Linked DNA regions of Homo sapiens. The protein of the gene in region 1 interacts with the protein of each later gene in a biochemical or structural test. Each region holds a gene or a part of one and is shown in the gene's direction. Other genes may lie near its edges. The genes, in order: CCNE1, ARIH1, CDKN1B and SKP2.

Region 1 (7,427 bases):
ACTTTTCAGAAAATAATCCTATGTAAGGAAAAAAGTGGTATGAGGAGTTGGAGTGGTTAGGAATCCCGTGGGTCTCTTATTGTTATCTCATTCTTTCCTAAATAAAGTCAGACAGATCTTGCTTTGAAACTTGGTGTACACTCAAGGACATAGACTTAATTATTCTACCTCATCCACTGGTCCCTAAAAAGGCCAACTTTGGAAACCATTTGTCTGCTGATGGTTCACCTAGTTTGGGAACTGCTGCTGGACTCATCTATGTCCAAAGGCCTGCTCTCAGATGTGCCAGCCATCTGGCTGTAGAGGGTGGCACCCAGCATTATGCCTTCAAGACTAGAATTCATTCTTCCTGAATGAAGAACAACTTACAGCGGTTGTAATGTGACCCTTTTTGAGTTAAGGAAATGCCACCCGCACATGGTACTAGAACTGAAAGGAAGCAGCCTTGCTCGCACAGCTGTTGGCAGGAGCTGTCATGGATAATTTGCATGCCCAATTCTTTGTACATTGGGTGGGGAAGAGCTTTATCTGGCTTTGCTCTTCTAACTGAAAGTGCTTGGGCTTCCTCTGAAGGCGGCCAATGTGTTGTGGTCGCCACCATGTGCTGTGTCTTCGAGGTAGCACTTACAGCCCGAGTTTCCACTTTCATTTATAGTGACCCCAGTTGTCTATTTTGTTCTTTAGTCAATGTTAATGGTCTCTGCTTTTTTTTTTTTTTTTTTGGGGGGGGGACAGAGTCTTGCTCCGTCACCCAGGCTGGAGAGCAATGGCGCGAGCTCGGCTCCCTGCAACCTCCGCCTCCCAGGTTCAAGTGATTCTCCTGCTTCAGCCTCCCGAGTAGTTGGGATTACAGGCGCCCGCTACCACACCCGGCTAATTTTTGTATTTTTAGTAGAGACGGGGTTTCACCAGGTTGGCCAGGCTGGTGGTCTCTGCTTTAAAAAAAAAAAAAAATGCCAGGTGCGGTGGCTCAGGCTTGTAATCCCAGCACTTTTGGAAGACAAGGCAGGAGGATGGCTTGAGTCCAGGAGTTCGAGACCAGCCTGGACAACATGGCAAAACCCCATCTCTACAAAAAAATACAAAAATTAGCTGGGTGTGCTCGTGCATGCCTGTAGTCCTAGCTGCTCAGGAGGCTGAGGCAGGAGGATCGCTTGACCCCAGGAGGCAGAGGTTGTAGTGAGCTGAGATTACACCACTGCACTCCAGCCTGGGGAACAGAGGGAGACCCTCTCTCAAAAAAAAAAAAAAAAAAGCCAAGTCTCAGACTTTCATATGGCTTCCATGCTAGTAGGATTGTTACCTGCCTAATATCTTTAGCAAAGTTACTATTTTATAACTTTAAAAATCAAACAGACTTCTTAGAGTAGGAATAGCTTTAAAAATGAAAATATTCTAAATGGACTTTAGTGTTTTTCAGATATTGAAAATTGAATACATATCTGAAACCTTTAAAAGAAAAGCATAGTGCTTTGGTTTCTAATAGTTCCTTATTTTATCAGGTATTTGAATTACCCTGCAAGACTCAGGAGATTCAGAGGTCTTAAGGAGTGTCTAGGCTAGCTTCCTGTAGACTTCATAGTATGACCTGTGACCATCACTTGATTTGGTTTTAACTAGGTGGATGTTCATTCTGTTTGTTTCGAGTTAAGGAAAAGAAAAAGTCCTTTATTATTTAACATATTTGGCTAGTCCTGCAACAAAAAGAAAATGTCACATTTGATGAGTTTTTGTTTTAAACTGAGGGGACTTTAATACATATGGCAGCCAAATTTACATTTTTGATCTTTTTTTTATTATACTTTTAAGTTTTAGGGTACATGTGCACAACGTGCAGGTTAGTTACATATGTATACATGTGCCATGTTGGTGTGCTGCACCCATTAACTCATCATTTAACCTTAGGTATATCTCCTAATGCTATCCCTCCCCCCTCCCCCCCATTTTTGATCTTTTATACTAATGAATGTGAAGTGCTTATGTAAATATTTTTATTGACAGTTCTGTTTTACTTTTAAGAAATTTTAGTAGATGCATTGTACTCATTAAAAAAATCTTTGAGTTGTGACAAAAAATATCATAATGTATCTTTTTGGAAGCACTTTCAGAAGTCATGCCTAGTATCTTACTGAGTTGCAGGTGAATTTGTAATGTTTTTGGGTAATGTAAGAGCTGTTTGCATCTTATCTCACCTCTCCTGTGTATTTTTCATTTACAGCCTTGGGACAATAATGCAGTCTGTGCAGACCCCTGCTCCCTGATCCCCACACCTGACAAAGAAGATGATGACCGGGTTTACCCAAACTCAACGTGCAAGCCTCGGATTATTGCACCATCCAGAGGCTCCCCGCTGCCTGTACTGAGGTCAGTGCCGACTCTGCCACATGGCTTCCAGGTCTCTTACTCCATGCTCCCCTTTATCCCTCATAGCATGGACGCATTCTTACCCCTTTGTGGGCCTCATTTTTGTTGTGTGTTTTGTTGTAGCTGGGCAAATAGAGAGGAAGTCTGGAAAATCATGTTAAACAAGGAAAAGACATACTTAAGGGATCAGCACTTTCTTGAGCAACACCCTCTTCTGCAGCCAAAAATGCGAGCAATTCTTCTGGATTGGTTAATGGAGGTGAGCTTGAGTCTTCCTGTTCGCTTCATGAAAGCACTGAGCATTTCCAGCATTTTTGTGTATTAGGACCTCTGTGTGGTTTATTCCCTCGACATGTTCTCCATCTCTGAAGCTATATGGTATATTTTTACTGTGGTGGTCTTTCTGTTTTGCTTGTATTCTTAGCAAGAATTTCTGAAATCTTTTTATCCTTCAGATGTTTTAAAATTGGCATCTAATTTTTTCCATCCAAGTTTAAATAATTGTTAAGATTGTATTTTCCAGTAAATTGTAACTGTTAACATTTGAGCTTTGTTCATTATGTTCATTAAATTGCTTTTTTTTTTTTTTTTTTTTTGAGATGGAGTCTTGCTTTGTCACCCAGGCTGGAGTGCAGTGGCACAATCTCAGCTCACTGCAACCTCTGCCTCACGGGTTCAAGTGACTTTCCTGGCCTCAGCCTCCTGAGTAGCTGGGATTACAGGCGCACGCCATCACGCCCAGTATTTTTTTTTTTTTTTTTTGAGACGGAGTCTTGCTCTGTCACCCAGGCTAGAGTGCAGTGGTGCGATCTCAGCTTACTGCAAGCTCCTCCTCCCGGGTTCATGCCATTCTCCTGCCTCAGCCTCCCGAGTAGCTGGGACTACAGGCGCCCGCCACCACGTCTGGCTAATTTTTTGTATTTTTAGTAGAAATGGGGTTTCACCGTGTTAGCCAGGATGGTCTCGATCTCCTGACCTCGTGGTTTGCCCGCCTTGGCCTCCCAAAGTGCTGAGATTACAGGCGTGAGCCACCGCACCCTGCCTAATTTTTGTATTTTTAGAAGAAACGGGGTTTCACCATGTTGGCCAGGCTGGTCTTGAACTCCTGACCTTGTGATCCACCCACCTCGGCCTCCCAGAATGCTGGGATTACAGGTGTGAGCCACCATGCCCAGCTAAATTGCTTTTAAATGTATTCACTGGGATGCATATATCACCTGTTTTATAGCTACTGTCATAAATTGTAAACATATATGAACAAGCTTATCTTAAACAGGTCTGACATTGCTCCTTTTTAACTTCTTGGAATCCATTCCCTTTTCCACCATTCCCATTTATTCTAATAAAATATATTGTTCAAATCCTGGCTGGGCACAGTGGCTCATGTCTGTAATCCCAGCACTTTGGAAGGCCAAGGCAGAAGGATCCCTTGAGCCCAGGAGTTAGAGACTAGCCTGGGCAACATAGCGAGACCCCATGTCTTTTTTTTTTTTTTTTGAGACGGAGTTTCGCTCTTGTTGCCCAGGCTGGCATGCAATGGTGTGATCTTGGCTCACCACAACCTCTGCCTCCCGGGTTCAAGCGATTTTCTTGCCTCAGGCTCCCGAGTAGCTGGGATTACAGGCATACGCCACCACGCCCGGCTAATTTTGTATTTTTAGTAGAGACGGGGTTTCCTCCATGTTGGTCAGGCTGGTCTTGAAGTCCCGACCTCAGGTGATCCGCCCGCCTTGGCCTCCCAAAGTGCTGGGATTACAGGCGTGAGCCACTGCGCCTGGCCCTTGAGACCCCATTTCAACAAAAAATAAAAAATTGTCAGGGTATAGTGGCTCAGGCTTGTAGTCACAACTACTGGGGAGGCTGAAGTGGGAGGATTGCTTGAGCCTGGGAGTTGGAGCTTGCAGTGAGCTGTGATAGCGCCACTGCACTCCAGCCTAGGTGACCATGAGACTCTGTCTCAATTTTTTTTTTAAGCATATTTTTAAAGATATTTGGACCATTGGAGTGGCTTCTGTGTTTTGAGACAGAGTTGCTCTGTCACCCAAGCTGGAGTGTAGTGGTGCAGTCACGGCTCACTGCAGGCTCCAATTCCTGGGCTCAAGCAGTCCTCCCACCTCAGCCTCCGCAGTCCTTGGGACTACAGGCATGAGCCACTACTCCCTGCCGATTTTTTATTTTTTGTTGAGTTGGGGTCTTGCTATGTTGCCCCGGCTGGTCTCCAACTCCTGGGATCAAGGGATCCCCATGCCTTGGCCTCCCAAAGTGCTGGGATTGCAGGTGTGAGCTACAGCACCCAACTCAAATCTTTTCTTGGTCCACACTATTTTATTTCTCTTTAACAGTTAATCAAAAGAACAAGTATAACAACATTTGATAGATAATGGTTAAACATAAAAGATGAGATTTTATTGGTTGTATATCTTACTGGGATGAACTGCGGTAGCTTATAGTTTCTTGATTAAGGGAAGCTTCCTAGACAACCTTGTAAGACTTGAATGGGTGAGAAGTGGGCTTTTCTTCTGAAGTGGAAGGACATCTCAGGCAGACCTGCTTCATGAAAACATGTAGAAGTTGAGTGTGTAACTACAGAAGTACCCCTCATCCTCGGGGGTACATCCCAAGACCCGCAGGAGATGCCTGAAGCCACAGATAGTACTGAGCTCTAGATATGCCATGTTTTTAATCCTCTACTTTCATGTTTTCACTTAAAGAAAGCACTTCACGGCTTCTCTTTGGCATTTCCAAATAGCCAGCATCACTACTCTTGCCCTGTGGGGCCATTATTCAGTCAAATAAGGGCTGCTTGCTTGAACACCAGCACTGCTGTGCTGTGACAGTCCATCTGATGACCTGTGTGCTAGTGAGTGACTAACAGGCAGGTGGCCTACTCCACGGGGATGTGCGGGCAAGGGGATGATTCACATCCTAGGCAGGTGAGGGTGGGACAGGCCAGAAGGGCCCCTCATTTAAAACCTATCAGTTGTTAGGCTGGGCACAGTGGCTCATCCCTATAATCCCAGCACTTTGGGAGGCCGAAGCAGGTGGATCACTTGAGGCCGGGAGTTCAAAACCAGCCTGGCCAACGTGGTGAAATACCATTTCTACTAAAAATACAAAAATTAGCTGGGCATGGTGGCGGGTGCTGGTAATTCCAGCTACTCGGGAGGCTGAAGCAAGAGAATCGCTTGAGCCTGGAAGTTGGAGGTTGCAGTGAACCAAGATCACAACACTACTTTCCAGACTGGGTGACAGAATAAGGCACCTCAAAAAAAAAACAAAAAAACAAAAAACTATCAATTGTTGAGTTCAGGAACTTTGCATTTTATATTTTCCTTCACCAAAGTCATTACAAGTTTTTTTTTTTTCCCCTCCCTCAAGTAAAACTTACTTGTGCTAAAACTTACTAAATATGTTTTCAGGTGTGTGAAGTCTATAAACTTCACAGGGAGACCTTTTACTTGGCACAAGATTTCTTTGACCGGTATATGGCGACACAAGAAAATGTTGTAAAAACTCTTTTACAGCTTATTGGGATTTCATCTTTATTTATTGCAGCCAAACTTGAGGTAAATAATTTTCAAATATTTGTTCTATAATGTGTGTTATTTCTCGAGCTCCACTGAGATTGGGGGAAGAGGTTGGCGCTTAGCCTATAGCACTCATCCTAAATTTTTCTGATTTGCTACCCTGTAAAGTTAAGACACATGCCAAAAAGAAAAAAAGGCTGGAAAGTGACCAGGAAGAGAAAAGTAGTGAGGGTATGGAAGACCTAGGTTCATGTAGTTACATTGAGCCAAAAAAAAAAATGAACTTTGAACTAAGATAATAATTTTGGGCCCGGGTTGGTGGCTCAAGCCTATAATCCCAGCACTTTGGGAGGCCAAGGCAGCTGGGTCACTTGAGGCCAGTAGTTTGAGACATGGTGAAATACCATTTGTACTAAAAATACAAAAAATTAGCCAGGCGTGGTGGCACGTGCCTGTAATCCCAGCTATTCGGGAGGCTGAGGCAAGAGAATTGCTGGAGCCCAGGTGGCCGAGGTTGCAGTGAGTCGAGATCCTACCACTGCACTCCAGCCTGGGCAACAGAGGGAAATTCTGTCTAAAAGAAAAAAGAAAAGATTAAAAATTTGTGTATGATTATCAAAGGGTATATGGGCCCAACTTTCAAATGTGTTAAAGGTACTGAAAAGGGGATATTTCAAGAGTACCCACAATGAGTCAAAGTTCCATCCATTTATTTAATGGTGGGTGGGAGTTGTGTTCTTTTTTTTTTTTTTTTTTTTTTTTACAACCATTGGTGTGGCTTCTGTGTTAATTCCATCAGTGCGCCCTCTCTCTTTCCATGCCAGGGTACTGAGAAGTCATTTTGGATGCATTATAAATTGAGACTGTTAGAGATTGGCTTTGGTGCTAGTGCCATCTTTTATTTCCTTTCAGGAAATCTATCCTCCAAAGTTGCACCAGTTTGCGTATGTGACAGATGGAGCTTGTTCAGGAGATGAAATTCTCACCATGGAATTAATGATTATGAAGGTGGGTTCCAGTGAATTTTCCGGCCATTTTTTAAATGCGTACGGCAGATCTTTTCCACCTGAAGTGTGAGTGCCTCTGGGAGGTGTTCTCCAGCTGGACACATTGTGGCATGGAACATGGCTGCATTTTGAACTTCTTTTCTCAATCATCGGTCTCTTTTCTCTCTGTTTTCCTTTAGGCCCTTAAGTGGCGTTTAAGTCCCCTGACTATTGTGTCCTGGCTGAATGTATACATGCAGGTTGCATATCTAAATGACTTACATGAAGTGCTACTGCCGCAGTATCCCCAGCAAATCTTTATACAGATTGCAGAGGTAAGTGGCTCCATCACGTCCGTGGGGCCACCTTCCCTGCAGCTGGAGTGAGGAACTCTAGAATAGGCGTGTGGTGGCATCCATCTCAGCGTTCTTTTCTTCTCCGTAGCTGTTGGATCTCTGTGTCCTGGATGTTGACTGCCTTGAATTTCCTTATGGTATACTTGCTGCTTCGGCCTTGTATCATTTCTCGTCATCTGAATTGATGCAAAAGG
Region 2 (7,427 bases), on another chromosome or scaffold:
GGGATTACAGGTCACTAGGCGTAGTAGGGCTACTACGCCTGGCCCTACTGCAGTTTTTAATAAGAGATGAGTTCTCTCAGCTTTTGTCTATAAGAGAATGTCCTTACTTTTATTTTTGAGGGGTATTTTAGTTGGATATAGGACTCTATGTTGACCTTTTATTTCTTCTTTCAGTACTTTAAAGAAGTTATTTTATTGTACTCAGGCCTCATTTGTTTCTGGTGAGAAGTCATTCATCATTTTAATTTTTATTTCCTTTCCGTAATGTGTGGTTGTTCTCAATGGCTGCATCTGTGCATTATATTTACTTTTCAGTAGATTGACTAGGGAATGTCTAGGTATGTTTTTCTTTGTATAGAGTTTACTGAACTTCTTGGATCTGTGTTGATGTCTTTCATTAATATTGGTTCTTTCTTGGCCGTTATCCGTTTACATTTTTCTCTTGTCTCATACTCTCTTGCTTCTCCTCTTCTTTGGAGATTCTAGTTACATGTATATTAGATGATTTGATATAAACCTACAGATCTCAGATGATTTTTCCCCTGCCCTGTTTTCTTTTTGTTTTCAGTTTGGATACTTTCCATTTAACCATCTTTAAGTTTTTTGATGCTTTCCAATGTTAACCTGTTAAACTTGTTTATTGAATTCTCCATTTAAAAATTTTTATTTTTAGTTATTTATGGATACATAGTTGTACTGAATTATTCATTTCTAATATTTTTATTTCTAGCATTTCATTATATTTGTATAGTTACAATTTTCTGCTGAAATTTCCTATTTCTTCATGCATGTTTTCCACATTTTCCATTCTACTTTTTAGCATTTTAATCAGTTATTTTATTGGGTTTTTTCTGTTTTTTCTTTCATTTTTAATCAGTTATTTTAAGGATCCAAACTGATAATTCAACATCTGGGTCTTTTCTAGTTCTGCTTCTATTGAGCCCTTCCTCTCCCTTACCATGAATCTTATTTTCTTGCTTTTGCACGTCTTGTATATTTGATTGGATGATGGACGTTTTATGTTGAAAAAAAAAAGAAATTGAAGAAAATGTTTACTTCCAAAACAGAGCATGCCCTTTGTTTTTTTTTCAGGCCACTTGAATGGTGGCTCAATCTGATGTATATGAATTCTAGACTGGGGCTTCACTGCAGTTTTAGTTTGATTCAGTTTGCCTCTAGCTTCAAATATTTGAAGGAACGTAGAATCAGAACTCTCATATCACCAGGGCCTGAGTTTTGGGCATTGGCAAGATTCCAGAGATCTGACTTTGCTTCATAGCTAAGCCACCAGCTTTTATCAATGTGGGAGATCTTTCCCTACTTTACAACCTTGCTGCCAGGATTTTTTTTTTTAATCAATGGGCTGGGGATAGGAGGATCTTTCTCAGCTCTCATGTGTGCCCTGCCCTTTTGTAGAGGAATGCCCACAATGCCTAGGGGATGGGTTTCTCAGCATTTCTGACCCCATTTAGGCTCCAAGAGTGCCTCTGTTGGATTTCACAACAATCCTGCCTCCCCTTTCATTTTTAAAGGGTATTTTGCCCTTGGGAGAAGTCAAGCTCTCTCAGCGTTCCTTCTATTATCCACACCTTTAGTGTACTACACCTTCCTGTACCTGGTTATCATCTAAGGGGTAAGATTGGTGGGAAGCCTTCCTCTGTGGATTTGGGTCATCTAGGTTCTAATGTCAAACCAGCCTCCAAGGGGTTGTGAAAATGTTGTTAAATTTCAGCAGGTTTCTCTTTTCTCCCCCCTGTAGTATTCCTCTTCCTACCATAGTTCAACTAGGAATAACAACAGCTAGGGGGTCTCTTCTCTCCTATGAAGGACTTGGCACTTTCTGGAGTTTGGATCATTTAGGTTTCTTTGGTTTTTGTTTTTATTTTGAGACAGGGTCTCACTCTTACCCAGCCTGGAGTACAGCCTGTAGTGATCTCAGCTCACTACAACCTCTGCCTTCCTGGCTCAGTTGATCCTCCCACCTCAGCCTCCTGAGCAGCTGGGACTACAGGCGTGTACCACCACACCCGGCTAATTTTTGTATTTTTTGTTGAGATAGGGTTTTACCATGTTGCCCAGGCTGATCTCAAACTTCTGAGCTCAAGCGATCTGCCTGCCTCAGCACCCCAAAGTCCTGGGGTTACAGGCATAAACCACTGCACCCAACCTAGATTTCTTTGTGTCCTTAGCTTTCTGATGAATTAAACATATGTTTTATTTTCTAGCTCATCTGGCCTTTTGTTGTTGTTTGCTAGAGTGGGAGGTATATTCCTTGTGACTTTGTTCATATCACTAGTGAATTTCAGAAGTAGGAGTTTATTTTTTTAATAAAAAATTTTTTTAGGTCAGGCACAGTGTCTCATGCCTGTAATCCCAGCACTTTGGGAGGCCGAGGCAGGTGGATCACCTGAGATCAGGAGTTTGAGACCAGCCTGGCCAACATAGTGAAACCCCAACTCTACTAAAAATACTAAAATTAGCCAGGTGTGGTGGTGGGCGCCTGTAATCCCAGCTACTTGAGAGACTGAGTCAGGAGATTTGCTTGAACCTGGGAGGCGGAGGTTGCAGTGAGCCGAGATTGTGCCACTGCACTCCAGCCTGGGTGACAGAGCAAGACTCCCTCTCAAAAAAAAAAAAAAAAATTTTTTTTTAAACACGTCTCACTGCCACCCAGGCTTGAGTGCCATGACATGATCATAGCTCACTGCTGGCTTGACCTTCTGGGCTCAAGTGATCCTCTTGCCTCAGCCTCTTGAGTAGCTGGGACCACAGTCATGTGCCACCATGCCTGGCTTTTTTTTTTTTGTAGAGTTTGGGTCTCGCTATGTTGCCTGTGATCCTCCCACCTTGGTTTTCCAAAGTGCTGGGATTAAAGGCATGAGCCACCATGCCTGGTTAGGAATGGGAGTTTAAACAATGGTTTTATTTACATATTTCATTAGCTAGTATTTTTTTCTTTTTTGAGACAGAGTCTGGCTCTGTTGCCCAGGCTGGAGTGCAGTGGCACGATCTAGGCTCATTGCAACCTCTGCCTCGTGATTCTCGTGACTCAGCCTCCTGAGTAGCTGGGATTACAGGCGCCCGCCACCACACCCAGCTAATTTTTGTATTTTTAGTAGAGACAGGGTTTCACCATGTTGGCCAGGTTGGTCTCCAACTCCTGACCTCAGTTGATCCACCCGCCTCAGCCTCCCAAAGTGCTGGGATTACAGGTGTGAGCCATCGCTCCTGGCCTCATTAACTGTTTTCAAAAGTAAAAGTACATGGATAATACAAAGTTAAATTTTGTAGAATCATAAAGAAAAGCAACACCTTCCCATCTTAACTCCCCTAGTGCCTCTACTCCCTCCACAGAGACAAATATCTTACCAGTTGGTTGTGTTTTCTTTTCCAAACTGTATTTCTAAAATGTGTCAATATCTCTTCCTTTTATTTTTTATTTTTTGTAGAGACAGGGGTCTCACTGTGCTGCCTAGGCTGGTCTCAAACTCCTGGCCTCCTACCTCGACTTCTCATAGTTCTGGCGTGAGCTACTGCACCTGGCCTCCCCCTTATTATTTTTTTAAACATGAATGGAAGCATACTATATTTTCTACACTTTATTTGTTTTATGTAACTATTTTAACAACCTGAGGACTTTTACAGGCTGCATAATATGTCTTAATATGGATGTATCTTAGTTTATTTAAACAGTTACTGGTGATGGACATTTCCATGTTTCCAGTATTTTTTCTCACAAACAATGCAGTATTATGCCTTTGTCCACATTCACCATTGATTGCTATTGAGTATATCTGTAGCATCAAGAATAGGCATACTGAAAATCCTCCATGAAGTCCAGTGAAGCTTCATATTATTTTGAAGTGATATTTCCCAGTGTTGGCTGGACTCTCAAGCGTTTGTGGTATAGGTTTTGGGAGGACTGGACACTTCCAAAGAGAAATAAGATGTTACAGACTTGTCCAGCAGGTGGCATCAGAACAAAGCTGGCTATGGACCTTGTCAGTACAAATGATAAAACATTAAAAATGTAAAAACTCAACTGTAGCTCCTTGTTTATACATATATTGGGGGTGTTGAAAAGTTACCGATGCCTGATTCCTCTTCTATGTCCTCAGCCCCCACCATAAAAATAGATAAATGCCATTTTTTTTGTATGCCCAGCACAGCTATATGATTTGAATAATCTTGATAAGCAGGGTCACATTTGAGGAGATTTGCTAAGGGAAATGAAGATCCATCTGTGACACAAGAAACATGTTCTATGTGATTTCTGGGATTTTCCTGTGAACATACTTCTTGTTTGTTTGTTTTACAGTGGATCTCACTCTGTCACCCAGGCTGGAGTTCAGTGGTGCAATCATAGCTCACTGCAACCTTGAGCTCCTGGGCTCAGGAGAGCCTCTCTCCTCAGTCTCCCAAGTAGCTAGGACTACAGACACATGCCATCATGCCAGGCTCATTTTAAAATTTTTTGTAGAGACGGGTCTCACTATGTTGCTCAGGCTGGTATTGAACTCCTGGGCTCAAGCAATCCTCCTGCCTCAGCATCTCAAAGTGTTGGGATTACAGGTGTGAACCATAGTATCCAACCTATTATGTTTTTTTAAAAAGAGATTGTTCTAATTATGTATATAATTAAAGTACATTAGGTTTAGTGATTGCAATTTGAGAAACCAATGTCCTTTCTTATTGAAAAAGGCCCTGGTACAGAAAGTGTTCTATCTTCCTCACAAGATCTGAGGTCAAAGGAGAGATTTTGAAACATTATAGCAATGGCTTCTAGTTATTGAATAAAGAATGTCATTTGCTCCTCACAGGACCCCTTTCAGGGAGATTTCACATATTGGGAAACAGCCTCATGAGCTTTCTACAAACATCTTTGTCCTTAAGTCTTCCCATTTCAGTAATTGGCTGTACCACTCATCCAGCAGCTTTCAAAGTAAGAAACCTGGCAATCTTCCTTTAACATCCATTTCCCTTTCCCTCATTCCCCCATATCCAATCATGTGTATTGGAGGTTTTTCCACCTCTAAACTTGAGAACCCATTTACTTTTTCTCCATCTCCTTTGCCATCACACTAGTCCAAGTGAAGTGTTTCATCATCTCATTTGCAGCATCCTTTAGTTTACCCTAGATTATCAATTTTTGTCCCCCTCCCAATTCAGTCTCTACTCATGAGCTAACATGAGTTTATTAAGTGTTCATTCTGACCATGCCATTCCTTGCTCAAAATTCTCTAGTGCCTTCCCAATGCCCTTAAAATAAAATTCCTCATATGGCCTTTGTGGATCTGCACTCCTACCTCTTCTCCTATTGCAACCAACCCTGTTACCTTTTTCTCTTTTCACACTGGTCTTCATTCTGTGCTGCAAACTGGCTGAGATTCTTCCATCCTCAGGGCCTTTGCACAAGTTCTTCCTTTGCCTTAGAATTCTTTCCTGGCCTGCACATGTCTTCATCCCCTTTCCCTAAGCTAATGCCTTACCCTTTAGGTCTCATTTTAAACATCTCTTACCCAGGAAAAATTTCCCTGTCCAAACAAGTCTAGATTGGCTCCCCATTGTTTGTTCTAACTGTTCTATATTTCTCCTTCTTAGCATTTATCACAATTCTTGGTATGTTGTGCTTTTCACTTTCTTAGTCGCTATTATTGGAGTAGGTAATACATCCATATAGTACAAAATTCAAAATGTATTAAAGGTATAGAGTAAAAAGTCTTCTCTTCCCTGTCCCCCCGCTACCCAGTTCTCCTCTTTAGAACCACTTTTAGCATTTTGAATATCCTTCCAGAAATATTTTCTAAGTATACAAGCAATTATGTATATAATATTCCTCTTTATTTTTGCCTTTTTATTAATACAGATACTATATGCATTTTCTGCACTTTATCTGTTAATAATATATCTTGGCAATTATTCAATATTAATATGTAAATAGTTGCCTCTTTCTTTTTCATGCGCCATATAATATGGACTTATAATTTATTTAACCTCTATCTAGGTTGGTTTTAGGCATTGGTTATTACAAATAATGCTGCATTGAATACCTTTGTATGTAAAGTCATTTCCCACATCTATGCCTATAGAATAAATTACTAGAATTGAAATAATTCAGTTAAAGATTATGTGCATTTTTAATTTTGGTAGTTATTGCCAAACTGCTCTCAATGGAAGTTTTATGAATTCCCACTAGTGAATGCATTTGTCCTCACAATTATGTCAGTGAAATTTTTGTTCTTTGCCAATGCAAGAAATGGAAAGTATCTCTTGGAAACTAATTTGCATGTTTTTTTTCCTTGCACAGTTATATTTTCATATGTTAAAGAGCCATTTGTATTTCTTGGTGAATTGTTCATAAACTTTGCTTACTTATTATCTAATGTCTGACTAATTTGCTACACTCTAAATTCCCAATTCATACTTAAGTCTCGCCCTTGCAATTTAGATGTACAATCTGCCTCTTCAGTGGTTTCCACACCAAAAAATCCACAGGCTCCTGAATTTTATATGGGCCTAAGAGTCTTACTGAAAATTGGAAGTCTTAAGGTGTAGTCTATTTTATGCAGTGTGAGGCCTTTCATGCTCTGAAATGTACCACTCTTGACTGACTTTTTCTTCTTCACCCTGTCCGGCACTGTGCCCTTATTAGCCAGAGAAATGTTCCCCCTTTCTCCCAGGAAACGTTCTGACCTTACCCTGGTCCCTCAAGGACTCTCCTTCTCCCCCAAATTAACTTTCAAGGAGTTTCTCCAACCCAAAATGGCACCCTTCCTGAAAAGATTTCTAGTGGATACTGTTTTCTGTACCTCACTACGGATGTATTTTGCTGCTTGGCTCCCCGTCTCCATTTTGCTATGGCAAACATTTTTTTCCAGAAATATATCAGATAAAATGAACATGTGGTCCCTTTTGTTGATTTTTGTTGGGATCCATGGTATTGATTTCTTCTAGTTTAGATAATTCCACCGTGGCAAGCTTTTATTCCTAGCATAGCGCTCATGAGGAGAATGTTAGTCACTTGGTGTTATTAATGCTAAAATAGTAAACAAGAACACAAAATTTGCTAGATTAGAAGTGGATTTTTTTTCCAGGCTGGGCACAGTGGCTCATGCCTGTAATCCCAGCAGTTTGGGAGGCTGAGGCAGGCAGATTGCTTTGAGCTCACGAATTCGAGACCAGCCTGGGCAACATGGAGAAACCCCGTCTGTACTGGGGCTAATTTTACCAAAAAAACTAGCCAGGTGTGGTGGCACACACCTGTGGTCCCAGCTACTGGGGAGGCTGAGGTGGAAGGATGGCTTGAGCCTGGGAGGCAGAGGTTGCAGTGAGCCTAGTTAGTGCCATTGCACTCCAGCCTGGGTGACATGTCTCAAAAAAAAAAAAAAAAAAAAAAGGTAAGGAATGAATTAACATGAATGAAAAAG
Region 3 (7,575 bases), on another chromosome or scaffold:
TTCACTTCCCACATTGCTGAGAATAATGCCTTGGACAATACCTTACACATGGTATTGATCACTGCTTAAAACCTCCTAATGCCCCAATGGCTTTCCATATCGCCAGGCCAATAATAAAAGCCCTACCTATGCCTACCTGGTCCTATCTGATCTGATGCGCTTTTTTTTTTTTTTTTTTTTTTTAAGACAGAGTCTCACTCTGTCTCTCCCGGGCTGGAGTGCAGTGGCACGATCTTGGCTCACTATAACCTCCGCCTCCCAGGTTCAAGCAATTCTCCTGCCTCAGCCTTCCGACTAGCTGGGATCACAGGCGTGTGCCACCATGTCCAGCTAATTTTTGTATTATTAGTAGAGACAGGGTTTCACCATGTTGGCCAGGCTGGTCTTGAACTCCTGACCTCAAGTGATCCACCCACCTTGGCCTTCCAAAGTGCTAGGATTATAGGCGTGAGCACCGTGCCCAGCCCTGATGCTCCTGTTACCACTCCCCACTTGCTCCGCCCTATCCACCATGGGCCCCCCTGCTGTTCCTTGAACACATTAGGCAAGATCCCACCTCAGAGACACTTCATTTGCTCTTTCCCCAGATAGCTGTATGGCTGCTCTCTCATGTCTTCAGGGCTTCTCTCAAAGGCCACCTTTTTTGTGTGTGTGAGATGGAGTCTCACTCTGTCTTCCAGGCTGGTGTGCAGTGGCAAGATCTTGGCTCACTGCAACCTCCGCCTCCTGTGTTCAAGTCATTATCCTGCCTCAGCCTCCTGAGTAGCTGGGATTACAGGCCTGCACTACCATGCCCAGCTAATGTTTGTATTTGTAGTAGAGATGAGTTTCATCATGTTGGCCAGGCTGGTCTTGAACTCCTGACATCAAGTGATCCACCTGCCTCTGCCTCCCAAAGTGCTGGGATTACAGGTGTGAGCCACTGCACCTGGCCTCAAAGGCCACTTTCTCCATGAGGCCTTCCCTGACCACTTATTCACATTGTGATCCTTGAAACACTTCCTTTTCCCTCTCCGCTTATTGTTTCTCCATAGCATTTTTCACCTCCTTACATAGTATGTACTTCTTTCATGTGCTGTGTTCATTTTCTGTCTCCTCTCCCCTTTTTGGAATGTCAGCATCATTCTAGTTTAAATCTGTTTGTTTACTTCTGTGTTCCCAGAGCCTAAGGATAATGTCTGGCATAGAGGAGGCACTCAATAAATATTTGTTGAAAGAAAGAAGGAATAAGCAAATTAATAGAAGGTGCTCCGTAAATATTTGTGAAATTGAATTAAAAGTGTCAGAAGGAGATGACTGTGAAATTCCCAAAGTCTAAAAATATGTGAGCTTAGAAGAATGGTGGAGTTGAGTGCTGCCTCATTATAAACATCCTCGAGGAAGGACTGAAACTGTGTGCTTGCGGTGGGAGGGGCAGCTGGGCAAGGAACCGTGAACCTTCGCAGAAACATTTGGGGCTGCAGAACTTGGGTGAGAGCGCTGCATCTGGGAGCTGGCGACGCTGGCGGCTTGCTCATTCACCCCATCTGAACACTTGTCTATGACACAGGTGTTTTCTCTTAAGTTATTTTGGTCTTTGCCTCTCTCCTCAGGTTGTGAAGATTACAGAAATCTGGGATGGCTTATGGGACGCTTCTCAGCCCTAAGTAGGAAAACAGCAGTGAAAATGGCAACCAAAACATCACGCAGGACTGGGGGTTTTGGGGAAACAGCTCACTTTAGAGCAGTGCAGTGTAGAGCTTTCCGTCTTTTACCAGGGTCCACCTTTAACACTGTTTATCTGAAAATTTTCCCCCTGGCTTACTCGCTTGCAGCTGCCCACTTTGCAGAAGGATGGCGCTCTGATCTCTACGCTCCCTGTTCCTTCAGGGACTCCATAGTATTTTTTTTCACGCGTCGTCGCTACTACAGCAGACGCCTGCGTTCTCATTATTTGCTGTACAGATCTCCGGTGCCTTGACTGTAAACAAAACACTTTAGATCATTGTGAGGTCGATGTAAGCACAGCCTTTCTGCTGGCAGCCAGACTTCTTAAGGTGGTGTGACTGTGACTTGCTTACTTTTCGAGATCAACAACAACAAAGCGACAAAATGGTGCTCCTACATATTAGTTGAAAGATTCAGCATGTGAAGGGGATCGAAGTGTTTATTTTCCACTTCCATATAAGACATGAATTCCATGAGTAAAATCAAACTTCTGTGGCAAGGTGAACTACTCTAGAATGTCTCCATTTACATACATGTGGTAGTTTGGGTGTTTATGCATATGGATAGATGCACATATATAGAGTTCCTGTGTTGTCTAGCAATTGTTTTAAAATTTGGACAATTATCTAATTTCTAGGGTAAGGTATAAATTATGGTAGGGAGGCCTACCCTAATTTTCCTGTTCCTTTTCCCCCAGTCTGCAGTCCAATAAATTGACAGCCTTAAAAGTAGAAAAACTAAAGAGGATGAGACCTCTTGCTTGATCCTAGGTGAATTCTTTTCTGTCAGTTAGGTAGGAAGTCCTGACTTGAAAACTAGTTCTGGGCACTGCCCCCTTTACTGTTCTCTGGGTATCAACCCCTGTCCTTCAATTTTAGTTGAACTAGTGGATGGTGATACCACAGGCTCAAGACAGCTGCATTTAAATATCAGTGACCACAGGCCACATCAAGGAAACATCTGCAGGCAACCCAGGGCCTGGGAAGGAGCCATTTTCAGTCACTTGTAAGACAGCAGGACCTGCAGACTACAGCACAATCAAACTCAGACAAAACCCTGAACCAGTGAGAACCATTAGGAAGGAAAGGAACAGAAAATGAACCAACCTGAGTGTTAGGAGACTTGCATCTAGTCCTGACTCCGGTACCAACCGAATGCATGTCCCTGGACAGGAAACCTCTCTGAGTCTCGATTTCCTCCGTGGTAAAAAGGAGAGGGTTAAACCACAGGGTCCCGAGGGTCCCTTCCAGCTGTCACATTCTGGAGCGTATGAGATGAGGTAGGCACACAAAGTGGACAAGATGTGGCTAAGAAAACAAGCTACACATCAAGCTCATCTGTAGCATAGGTGCTTAAGAAAACTTTGCTGCTGTGTAATATTAGAACGGAAGGTTGGTTTCCAGTAAAATGCATTAACTTTGGCTCAAACCAAGATGATGGGTACCGGGCATGGGGGTGGGGAGGCAGTTGAAGATCCACTGAGCTTTGTCTCAGGGCAGCCCTGCTCATCGTCCTACTTTACCTTCCACCACGGTGCTCAAGCCCACACTGAGAGAGAAATTTCCAGCTGCAAAAGGGAGAAGAGAAACGCTGGAATACTAGTATCGGACGTTAGGACATGGTTGTGGTGTTTTAAAAATCATTTCATCATCTGGAGTTTGACCCCGAGGGGAGTATTTTCACCCTTCAGCCCTCTGAAAGCATTCACTAGCATCTGAATATTGTTCTGAGTTTGTTGGAGCAGTGAAATCTGGTGAGAGAGAAGGGTGGAGGAAGGAAGGAGCTGTTGTATTTGGCGGCTGGACTCAGGTAGAGGAAACTGCTACAATCCCGGGAAAGAACAGAAAAGTAGAAAGGGACGAGTTCCCACACGCAGCCAATGTCCATGGCCTTAACTGTGCTTGGGAAGGAAGATCCTGGGCCAGGGGTGTACCCTCGTTTTTCAAAACTAAACGTGTCTGAGACAGCTACAAAGTTTATTAAGGGACTTGAGAGACTAGAGTTTTTTGTTTTTTTTTTTTAATCTTGAGTTCCTTTCTTATTTTCATTGAGGGAGAGCTTGAGTTCATGATAAGTGCCGCGTCTACTCCTGGCTAATTTCTAAAAGAAAGACGTTCGCTTTGGCTTCTTCCCTAGGCCCCCAGCCTCCCCAGGGATGGCAGAAACTTCTGGGTTAAGGCTGAGCGAACCATTGCCCACTGCCTCCACCAGCCCCCAGCAAAGGCACGCCGGCGGGGGGGCGCCCAGCCCCCCCAGCAAACGCTCCGCGGCCTCCCCCGCAGACCACGAGGTGGGGGCCGCTGGGGAGGGCCGAGCTGGGGGCAGCTCGCCACCCCGGCTCCTAGCGAGCTGCCGGCGACCTTCGCGGTCCTCTGGTCCAGGTCCCGGCTTCCCGGGCGAGGAGCGGGAGGGAGGTCGGGGCTTAGGCGCCGCGGCGAACCCGCCAACGCAGCGCCGGGCCCCGAACCTCAGGCCCCGCCCCAGGTTCCCGGCCGTTTGGCTAGTTTGTTTGTCTTAATTTTAATTTCTCCGAGGCCAGCCAGAGCAGGTTTGTTGGCAGCAGTACCCCTCCAGCAGTCACGCGACCAGCCAATCTCCCGGCGGCGCTCGGGGAGGCGGCGCGCTCGGGAACGAGGGGAGGTGGCGGAACCGCGCCGGGGCCACCTTAAGGCCGCGCTCGCCAGCCTCGGCGGGGCGGCTCCCGCCGCCGCAACCAATGGATCTCCTCCTCTGTTTAAATAGACTCGCCGTGTCAATCATTTTCTTCTTCGTCAGCCTCCCTTCCACCGCCATATTGGGCCACTAAAAAAAGGGGGCTCGTCTTTTCGGGGTGTTTTTCTCCCCCTCCCCTGTCCCCGCTTGCTCACGGCTCTGCGACTCCGACGCCGGCAAGGTTTGGAGAGCGGCTGGGTTCGCGGGACCCGCGGGCTTGCACCCGCCCAGACTCGGACGGGCTTTGCCACCCTCTCCGCTTGCCTGGTCCCCTCTCCTCTCCGCCCTCCCGCTCGCCAGTCCATTTGATCAGCGGAGACTCGGCGGCCGGGCCGGGGCTTCCCCGCAGCCCCTGCGCGCTCCTAGAGCTCGGGCCGTGGCTCGTCGGGGTCTGTGTCTTTTGGCTCCGAGGGCAGTCGCTGGGCTTCCGAGAGGGGTTCGGGCTGCGTAGGGGCGCTTTGTTTTGTTCGGTTTTGTTTTTTTGAGAGTGCGAGAGAGGCGGTCGTGCAGACCCGGGAGAAAGATGTCAAACGTGCGAGTGTCTAACGGGAGCCCTAGCCTGGAGCGGATGGACGCCAGGCAGGCGGAGCACCCCAAGCCCTCGGCCTGCAGGAACCTCTTCGGCCCGGTGGACCACGAAGAGTTAACCCGGGACTTGGAGAAGCACTGCAGAGACATGGAAGAGGCGAGCCAGCGCAAGTGGAATTTCGATTTTCAGAATCACAAACCCCTAGAGGGCAAGTACGAGTGGCAAGAGGTGGAGAAGGGCAGCTTGCCCGAGTTCTACTACAGACCCCCGCGGCCCCCCAAAGGTGCCTGCAAGGTGCCGGCGCAGGAGAGCCAGGATGTCAGCGGGAGCCGCCCGGCGGCGCCTTTAATTGGGGCTCCGGCTAACTCTGAGGACACGCATTTGGTGGACCCAAAGACTGATCCGTCGGACAGCCAGACGGGGTTAGCGGAGCAATGCGCAGGAATAAGGAAGCGACCTGCAACCGACGGTAATGACCCTTTCCCAACCATAGAATGTGTTTGGGGCCCCGCTTTGCCTGCTGGAGGGTGTTAACCTTAGCTTGCTTTTCGGCGTATTCTGATTTAGCTTTGGGAGAGCTAACTTTATTGGTCTTAGGTGTTCAGTGCTACCTGGCCCACTGCTTGTCTGTTTGTGACTTTTAAGTCAGAAACTGGAGATGGTAAGATCCGATAATTTCCCTAACTTAATACATCGCGGTCCCTCTCACTAGCAACTCCTAGGTATGTGACAAAGTTGGGATGTTTATCAACGGTCCGCCTCCTGGCTAGGGAAAGAGCTCTGGGGCGGAGAATGCACTTTCTGTTTTTTGAAAACAACCTCATTTTGTGCCCTTAAAAGCCACTGGGGATGACGGATCCAGGATTGTGGGTGGAGGTAGTGGGTTTTTCATCCCCTGACTATGGGGCCAACTTCTGCCAGCCATTGTTTTTTCTAATAAAGATTGTGTGTTCTTTTTAAAAATTTCCCCTGCGCTTAGATTCTTCTACTCAAAACAAAAGAGCCAACAGAACAGAAGAAAATGTTTCAGACGGTTCCCCAAATGCCGGTTCTGTGGAGCAGACGCCCAAGAAGCCTGGCCTCAGAAGACGTCAAACGTAAACAGCTCGGTGGGTTGATCACTAAAGGAGCACGCACTGGAACCCGGGGCCTTCAGACCTCACGATACCTGATCTTACTGGTTGCTGGCAAATTAAAAGCTTATGGGGTTTTGTTTTGTTTATACTTCGTGAGGTCAAAAAAGTAGCAATGGGGAAGGCTGGGGATACGGTAATTCCTCAGAGTTTCTATGCCCAGAGATACTTTCTCTTCAAACTGTTGACCAGAGCAGCTACTTGTAACCCAGGCCCCATCGGGTAGGAAGGTCGTTTCCCTGTGAGTCCCACTAAAACGTGTTGGGAGCAATAGGTTCTTTGCCCATCCGAACAAGAACTAGGGTACTCCCTCAGTCCGAATTAATGAGAATTAATTTCCTAGAGGTTCAGCTTGAGTCGGTAACAGATTTTGAGCCATACATGGAAAAATGGCAAATACATGATTAAGTTTCAATTTTGAGGGGGAATGTTTGGTAGAAATTGCTCATCTTTGGTTATGCAAGGGATTAGAGATGTGAATAGGATGGTATGTTGTGTTCTTTGACATTTTAATAAACTGTCACTTTCCCTGTTGTCTCCTAAGTTTGGAGAGAGAAGGAACCAGTATTTGCAAAAACCAAATGGAAAGATAAAAAAGTTACTAAAGTTTCTACAGAATTTCTGGTAACACTGAAGTTGCAAAGCAGAAGTTAAATTAACTCTTGTCAGTAAGCAATCCAGGAACACGTCAGCCAGTGTATGCTAATTGTGCCGTAACAGGGTGATTTGGATATTTGTAGGGGAAATGGGTAGTAAATATCAAGACTGGTGACCGTAGGTCAGCCCAGCACAAAGGAAGTGGAGATTTTTCCATGCACAAGAATCTGATCACTGTAAATAGCTAATTTGAATAATTCAGTCCCCAGATAACCAACATGGGTTGGTTATTCATAATAAACTACATATTTTAATAGTTTATTAGCTTCCTTTAGACCAAGACTGTGACCTCTTTATTTTCTAAAGCACACACGTAGTTTAGCATATGAGGCGATAAAATATTGATGTTAACTTTTTAAATCCCCAGTTATAAAAATTTTAAAATAACAGGGATTAAGGTGAGATTCAGGTTTGTTGTGTCTTTAAATTGTATATGTGACTTCACATATCTTTTTCAGCGCTTATACAAAACGGCACTATAGAACCTCCATTTTACAGCACCATATGAAGTGGGAAAATTAGGTGAAAATTTTCCTGAAGCAACCTTAACATGCGCAGCCCTTGTTGGTTTGTGACTTGTGGCCTAGCTCATCAGATGAGCCACGAGAATCAGACCTGGATTTTGATCTGGCCCTGTTCTGACATGCAATGAGGCATTTGTAGGATTTAGTAATATTGCTAGTTCAAAGAATACTAGAAATATTAGTAAGAACCTATTCAAAAGTATTCATGAGTATTTTCTGCATATGAATCAGGAATTAGAATATTTTGAAAATGATGTTAATAAAATTTTCCTCTGGAAGGCCTTTATAATTTTTATTCCCAATCATTTTTCAA
Region 4 (7,427 bases), on another chromosome or scaffold:
TCCCACCTTGTTAGTGAATGCTGGTTAAGCTATAGTTTACCTTCTTGCAAGAGGAAACATTGAGCAAGACATGTCTATTTTCTCTTGCAAGAAGGTAAACTATTTATGAGCAAGACAGATAATTACCATGCAGTGTGTTTATTAAATGTTTCAGTGAATATGTGGCAACACACGAGGAGCCGCCTTGTTAGAGGAAGTGACTCTTGAGTATTGAAGATATCTAGGTAGGAGATCTCTAGGTAATAAGACAAAGCAACCAGTCTAGGTAAAACTTCCTGTGTGGTTCTAAACTCTTACGTAGTTGGAAGTTGCTGGAGCACAGGACTAAGGGAGGAGAGTGACAAGGTGAGGAGAGTCAGGGACCAGATTGTAATGGGCCCCTACGCCTTGCTGTAAGAAGAATGGACTGGACTCTTCCATTAAGAGGGAAGCATGGGCCAGGTGTGGTGGCTCACACCTGTAATCCCAGCACTTTGGGAGGCTAAGGTGGGCAGATCACCTGAGGTTGGGAGTTTGAGACCAGCCTGGCCAACATGGTGAAATCCTGTCTCTACTAAAAATACAAAAATTAGCTGGGTGTGGTGGCAGGCACCTGTAATCCCAGCTACTCAGGAGGCTGAGGCAGGAGAATCGCTTGAACCCGGGAGGCGGAGGTTGCCATGAGCTGAGACCACAACATTGCACTCCAGCCTAGGTGACAAGAGCAAAACTCCATCTGAAAAAAAAATAAAAAAAGGGAAGGATGGTGGAGAGAGTTGTTCTGAGAATGGAAGGAACAAGTCAAGAGTTGAAATTTAGGAAATTAACTTGCCAGGTACCATGGAGGGTCCATCGAGGATAGAAGAAGCTAGAGTAGTTAAGGATACTGCTGTGTTCGTTCAAGTGAGAAAAGGTGAAGTCTGATATAAAACAGATAGCAGTAATAGCAGCTAATGTTTTGGGGCATGTATTATGTGCCAGATAGTGAATTTTGTAAATGCATTTTCATTTAATTCTGACAGCAACCCTATGAAGTGTGATCTTGTTTCCTTTTTATAGTTGTGGAAACTGAGACACAGGGAGACTGAGTAAGTCTTTTCCAGGGTCACATTGTTAGTAGGTGGCTGAACCAACATGTGAACCTAGTGATACAATATTCCAGAATTCTTACTCTTAATCACTAAGTTTTACTAACACAGGGCATTTGGGGATGTATTAGAGAAGATGGCAAATTTGAGAGATGTATAATCAAAAGAACCTGGTGATTTTACAAGTAGATGTTTGCAAGCTAATTCTAATTATGGGTGAAATGGATATATGTTTATTCCATTGTCTTTTTAATTCAAAAAGTACATTGATTGATATTCTTGTGTATTTGCTTCATAGTAAGTCTTTTATTACATTATATCATTTAATCTTCTTAATAACTCTGCCAAGAAGTTTGATAATACCATTTCACAAATGAGTAAACTGAGGCAAATTATCCTGTTTGATGTCTGAGAGATAGTGATATACATTTTAAACTCACTGACTCAAAGACCTGTGAGCTTAACTACACTCGCCTGCTTTCATCTAAATGTTGTTGATGAATAGTGTCTTACTGGTCTTTTTCTTCTGACGTTTTTCTCTTTTTCCAGTACTCTCGCAAAAAACTCAAATTTAGTGCGACTTAACCTTTCTGGGTGTTCTGGATTCTCTGAATTTGCCCTGCAGACTTTGCTAAGCAGCTGTTCCAGGTATGAAAGATGTGAGACTTGATTATAGACTCTTATGTCAAACGTAAAATTATCCCTCACATCTGTATAAAATGGGATGAACTTTTTGAGCTTTTTGTACTTTCCAGGCTCTTGATTTGGTGAATGCAAAATCTTTTGCCCTCCTAACTTTCTGTCCAAACTCAGGAGCCAAGTCAATTGAGTTTGCAAGTGATACTTGTATAGTGATCTCTTTTTTGTTTATTTGGAACTGTTAAAATAAGGGAAGTGTAGTAGTGTCTATCAACAGTATGGTTGTAAGAAATTTGCTCACACTTAACTGTACATTCAGGTTTTTTCCCCTATGGTATCTGTAGACCTAACTTACAATTTTTTATCAAATTTGGTGTTTTATAAATATAGACCGTAAATTTGGGCAATTCTATTAACAATATCTTTCATAATAATGTCAGCACATAAAGGGTACAGAGTTACAGATATTGCTAAGTGAGGGGAGTACATGCTTTTTGGAATACACAGTACTAGGCATATGTGTGTTTTTTAAAAATATCCCTTGGTCTCCATGGTACAGCATTTGAATCTGTGTCTTGTTAATGGTCCATTTAAAATAGATTGCCTCTGGATATGCGTGTTATCAGTGAGATCAAATGTATAGCCCTATATTTAGTCAGCAGTGCCAGAAGTGGGGAGTGGGGATTAATGGTTGTATTTTGTCTCTGAAACCCTCGTTTTTGCTCAGTTAGCAGAAGCACAGTAAGACGAAGTGGCTTTTTGCAATATCAGCATCTCTTTATTAGGAATCCTCAGTGCAATCCATCAATTGCGTAAAACATCCTGAGTGATTGTTCAGTCTGTGTTGGGTGGTTGGTAGTTTGAGAAAGCAAACATAAAAGACTGGCATTTCTACCTGCAGTACTGGAATAAGGTTTGAGCCATCAGGTGCTTCTCTCCATTTCGAGGAGGAGGCACATTCACTAAGGCCCTTCTGATCCCCTGGCAACTTTCAGGGGCAAACAGGGTATACTTAGGTGACTAAAGGTAGCTACTGTTAGAGAAGCAGGTGTTCTGTGCATGAAATGATAAGGAATCCATGGTTTTATATTTTCTTTGTTTGCAGTTTGAGGCAAACTCATTCCCGTGTGATGGTTTCATATTTTGTTTATTACCCCTCTTTTGTGCAGACTGGATGAGCTGAACCTCTCCTGGTGTTTTGATTTCACTGAAAAGCATGTACAGGTGGCTGTTGCGCATGTGTCAGAGACCATCACCCAGCTGAATCTTAGCGGCTACAGAAAGAATCTCCAGAAATCAGGTTAGAGCTTCCAAGCCTGGACCACTGAGGCCTTCACAACATAATAGATGAGATTCATTGAGCTTCTCCTAATCATTCCTCCACATAAGTTTTCTCATTTAATCCAGTGCATGTGTTAGTCCCCTTTTTCAGATGAGGTAGCTGCTAATCAGAATGGTTAGGTAAAGGTAAACAGCTAGTGAGCTAGAGCCAAGGTTTGAATTCAGGATCTAACAGTAGAAACCTTTACACTTGAAAACAATGTATTTTTAAGCAGAAAAACTTTTAATCAACTAAATGGTTAGGTAAACCCCAACATAAAAATACATAAATGTAGCATTTGATTAGTATTAAGTAGTGGTTGTTCATTAGGGGCTATTTTGTCTGTACGGGGACATTTGTCAATGTCTGGAGACATTTTTTATTGTCACAGCTGTAGGAGTGCTGATGGTCTCTCATGGGCGGAAGCCAGGATGCTGGTGGACGGTGTATAGGATGGAGAATAGCATGCACAATAATCTGGTCCAAACATCAGTTCCAAGGTTGAAAAACTATTATAAACTCTGTTAATAAGTTCATATTTATGACTTTTACTTTTTATTCAGTCCAAGAGGGCAACGAGGATTTTTAGATGAAAACAGGCATTAGAAGTCAAAGGTAGCAGGGAGCAGTCTTTAAAAACCTTAATATTCAGTTACGCTTTATTTTACTTGTATGTTAATGAGAAAATCTTGATTTGCAAAGATAAGTGATTACAAATGGCAAGTTTTTTAAATGGCTTCACCGTCTCAGGCCAACATTCAGTTTGTGGGCTCTACAAAACCTAGTTAAACCAGCAACACACATCAACCATATCTTGATGTTAGTACTAGCTTATTTGAGTGTGTTTTGTTTATTATAGTTTTTATTATTCTGAAAAAGATTTGAATCAAACATCTGCAGAATAGATCTTAAAATTTAAGTAGTATAAAACTACTGCTCCAGGACAGATGTCCTCTGGTAAGATGTATAAAGCTATAGAAAATAATTGCTAGGATCTCATGAGTGGGTAGAAATTCGAGTCTTTCACCTGTGCAAGGACTCAAATTTGGACTACTGCCATTCCAAACACTTGCATTTTCAGACAAGGTGAACACTTTCTTTAGCAAGCTGTAAAAGCAGCAATCATGTCTTCATTTCATACCACTCTCCCCACCCAGTATTTATAATTACTATTTTAAAACTGATCATAGTGTTATACAGTCATTTAAAAAAAATGTAAAATACAGAAAAACACAAAGGGAAGCAAATTATCAATAATCTTAACATCTTGCTAGGCTTTTTCCTGTACAAAAACTGTTTTTTTTTTTAATGGGACATGGTATATTAAATACTTCGTAATATGCTTTTTAACCCCATTTTCAGTGACTACATGATGTCATCATCAGTGGCTATGTGATAGTCCATCAAATAGATATGCAATAATTTATATTAAGTCAATAACAATATATGCAGTTGATCAGAATTCTAATGGACTTTCAGAATCTTCCCAGTTTTTCTCTCCTATAAACAATTTTATGAGTGACAGAGACAAATCTTTAGATGCATTTCTAAGGATAGATTCTTAAAAGTGGAATTGCTGGGTCCAGCATTAAGTACTATTCTCAAGTTTTGGATAGTTTCTGCCAAATTTTCCTCCAAGAAGTTTAAACTCTTCACCCACGAGCATCCTCTTAGTGTGAAATCCCATCACTCTTGGTTCTTCTCTGTCTGCAGGTGAAGGGAAGGCAGTGCCTTGTTTATATTTCTTTCCCACATCTGGATCTTTCACTGGTTTACTGAAAGATTTTCTGACATGAATCGAGGCTCTGGGTGCAAGGTTGAGAAACTGCTGTAGGCAAAGTGCTGTTGGTTTTGTCCAAATTTGGCTTAAAATCTTTCCCTTTGTTCCTCCAAGAAAGAACAGAGAGCCTGTTTACCGAGTTTTGGCAGAAATAGTAGGTATTAAAATGCTGCTTGCTAGACACATTCAGGACAGAGAGACAGACTGTAAATTGAAGTGTTAGTTTTTTAATTATACCATGGGGATAAAAAGTTTTTAATGTCATTAACAATAGCACACACCATTTCATTATATATGAGATAATATGGATTTGGTTTTAGCTCATAGACTGGTACCAGATGGCCTGGGTTCAAATATCCACTCTGCCATTTACTGGGTAGACTTGAGCAAGTTGCTAAACTTGCCTGTTCCTTAGTTTTCTCAGCAGTAAAATGGAGATAAGTAGAACCCATCTCTTAGAGTTACAGGAAAGAATAAATGAGTTAAGACATGTACAGCATGTGGAACATTTCTTGCCACATGGTAAGAGTTCAATTAGTGTTGGCTGTTAATACTGTTCCTTCCCCCACTACCCCCATCACTACCTTTCCATGGAGCAATGGATGAAGCACAGAAACATTTGGTCTTGGATTTGACCTTGACTTCTGTAGCTGAAATCATCTCTCCTTTGAAGTAACGGGTTGGATTAACGGGTGGTTTCTAAGATCCTTCTAGCTCAGGTTGGGTCTACTGTTTATGGTGAAATGAAGGGGACAGTGAAAAGGAAACCTTGGCAGTGACTACTGTTTACTAACTACTTCCTGCCCAGGGAGGACAGAGCTTAAGTGTGGGCCAGAGGAAACTAACCCTTTATCCCCCAATGTTTCGTTCTTTCTCCAGTGGTGTCAAAGTATGATTGCATCAGATTTTGCTGATGGCTAGTTGGCTGGCTAGATGATTGGTCCCTCAAAATTTTATTGTGTACTTTTTTCATTTTTTGGTCATTTATTAAATATTTATTGAGCACCTACAGTGATTGAACAAAACAGAGCCTTGAACAAAACAGAGAAAGTCACTCTTATGAAGATTACTTTCTAGTGGGGGAGCCAGAAAGTGAACATATTTCATAAATGTTATGAAAGGAGGTAAAAATGCAAGGACGAAGAGCAAAGCAGAGTAACCAGATAGAATGTGGCAGAAAGAGGACTACTTTTAGATGGAATGGTTAAAGACAGGGCCTCTCTGAGGAGACTGTACTGGACCCAGAGAACTGACTGAGTGAAGAAGGAATCCATATGCATATGTGAGAGAAGAACATTCAAGAACAAAGGACCAGTGAGTGCAAATACCTTGATATGGAACCAATGTGTGAGAGGGAGCAGGGAGAACAGTGAGAGGAGAAAGATGGCCAAGGGCTGTCTAAGCCAAGGCAAAAGCTTTGAATTTTTCCTAAGTGACATGGGATATGGGAAGCCATTGGAGTATTTCGAGCAGAGCAATATGACTGACTTCATTTTAAAAGACTCACGCTAGTGCTGTGTTGAGAAAAGGCTGTAGCGGGGAAGTATGAAGCAGGGAGACCAGTTAGCAGACTAGGCTGGTGACACTTAAGGTGGTAAGAAATGATCAGATTTGGGCACATTTTAAAAACCAACATCATGAGATTTGGTGACACAATGAACGTGGGATGTGAGAAAAATAGTCCACTATGATTTCAAGGGTTTTGGCTGAAGCCACTGGATTCGTGAAATTATCACTTGCTGAGATGGGAAAGAGTTTAGGGAAGGAGGAAATTTGGGGGAGAAATTGAGTATTTGATTTTAGACATAAATTTAGAGGCCTATCTCATATCCAAACGGTATGTTGAGGAGGCAGTTGAAAATGCAAGTCCAGAATTTAGGAGAGGGGATATACTTGTGAGACGAAAAAACCCTCAAATGTTAATGAAGTTTGCCTGTTGTTCTAAATAAGTAACATTTATTGATTCATTTTCTGATTGCCAAGTAGCTTACATGACTTTCTTCCAAATTCTGAAAAGTTGCCTGTAATCCAAACACCCTTGAATACTGCAGTTAACATTTTGGATGTATTTCCTTGCAGCCTTTTTTTTTTCTTCTCTCTTTCTTTCTGTGTATGTGTTTGTGTGTAAATGTGAGTTTGAGTGTGTTTTGACCAAGTTGAAATTATAACGCATTGTATATATTTTGTTTACAAGCTATCCTAGTATTTTTTTAAATGTATGAAATGTTATCAGAAAGCGTTTTCATAATGATTAGCAGTGTATTTCACGGAATGGATGAGGTTAACATATTAAACTAACTGGAGGAGGGGCTAATATAACTGTTGCCACATTGAATATATTCATACACATCTATATTTTTCTAAAAGTGGAATTACTGGGCCAAAAGTAAACTGTATAATTCTCTGAATTCTTTAAAAAAAAAAGAAAATCAGTTCACTATCCAAAAAAAGCAGGAATCAGTTCACTATCCAAAAAACGCAGGGTTCAGGCTCCTGAAAGCCTGCAAATAAAATTAAATATCTACCTGTGGTACATGGAAGACCTACTTTATGGTAGACCTACTTTATAATAGAATTTTTTTTCACTTGATGGCTGAGAAGAAATATTTCTAATTTTATT

The links.
Region 2: of the proteins of CCNE1 (region 1) and ARIH1, one has a biochemical effect on the other in vitro, tested with the Homo sapiens proteins (3 studies listed by BioGRID).
Region 3: of the proteins of CCNE1 (region 1) and CDKN1B, one has a biochemical effect on the other in vitro, tested with the Homo sapiens proteins (4 studies listed by BioGRID, with this or other methods).
Region 4: the proteins of CCNE1 (region 1) and SKP2 form a complex in vitro, tested with the Homo sapiens proteins (2 studies listed by BioGRID, with this or other methods).

Annotation. Positions count from the first base shown.
Region 1 is NC_000019.10:29,814,919-29,822,345, forward strand, and holds part of CCNE1 (G1/S-specific cyclin-E1), read left to right. Parts: intron 1-2,218; coding exon 2,219-2,364; intron 2,365-2,487; coding exon 2,488-2,623; intron 2,624-5,783; coding exon 5,784-5,930; intron 5,931-6,803; coding exon 6,804-6,899; intron 6,900-7,077; coding exon 7,078-7,212; intron 7,213-7,321; coding exon 7,322-7,427. UniProt on the Homo sapiens protein: Essential for the control of the cell cycle at the G1/S (start) transition.
Region 2 is NC_000015.10:72,596,089-72,603,515, forward strand, and holds the end of ARIH1 (E3 ubiquitin-protein ligase ARIH1), read left to right. Parts: 3' UTR 1-6,899; downstream 6,900-7,427. UniProt on the Homo sapiens protein: E3 ubiquitin-protein ligase, which catalyzes ubiquitination of target proteins together with ubiquitin-conjugating enzyme E2 UBE2L3.
Region 3 is NC_000012.12:12,712,898-12,720,472, forward strand, and holds the start of CDKN1B (cyclin-dependent kinase inhibitor 1B), read left to right. Parts: upstream 1-4,470; 5' UTR 4,471-4,942; coding exon 4,943-5,417; intron 5,418-5,927; coding exon 5,928-6,049; 3' UTR 6,050-6,057; intron 6,058-7,575. UniProt on the Homo sapiens protein: Important regulator of cell cycle progression. Inhibits the kinase activity of CDK2 bound to cyclin A, but has little inhibitory activity on CDK2 bound to SPDYA. Involved in G1 arrest. Potent inhibitor of cyclin E- and cyclin A-CDK2 complexes.
Region 4 is NC_000005.10:36,168,728-36,176,154, forward strand, and holds part of SKP2 (S-phase kinase-associated protein 2), read left to right. Parts: intron 1-1,616; coding exon 1,617-1,715; intron 1,716-2,875; coding exon 2,876-3,006; intron 3,007-7,427. UniProt on the Homo sapiens protein: Substrate recognition component of a SCF (SKP1-CUL1-F-box protein) E3 ubiquitin-protein ligase complex which mediates the ubiquitination and subsequent proteasomal degradation of target proteins involved in cell cycle progression, signal transduction and transcription.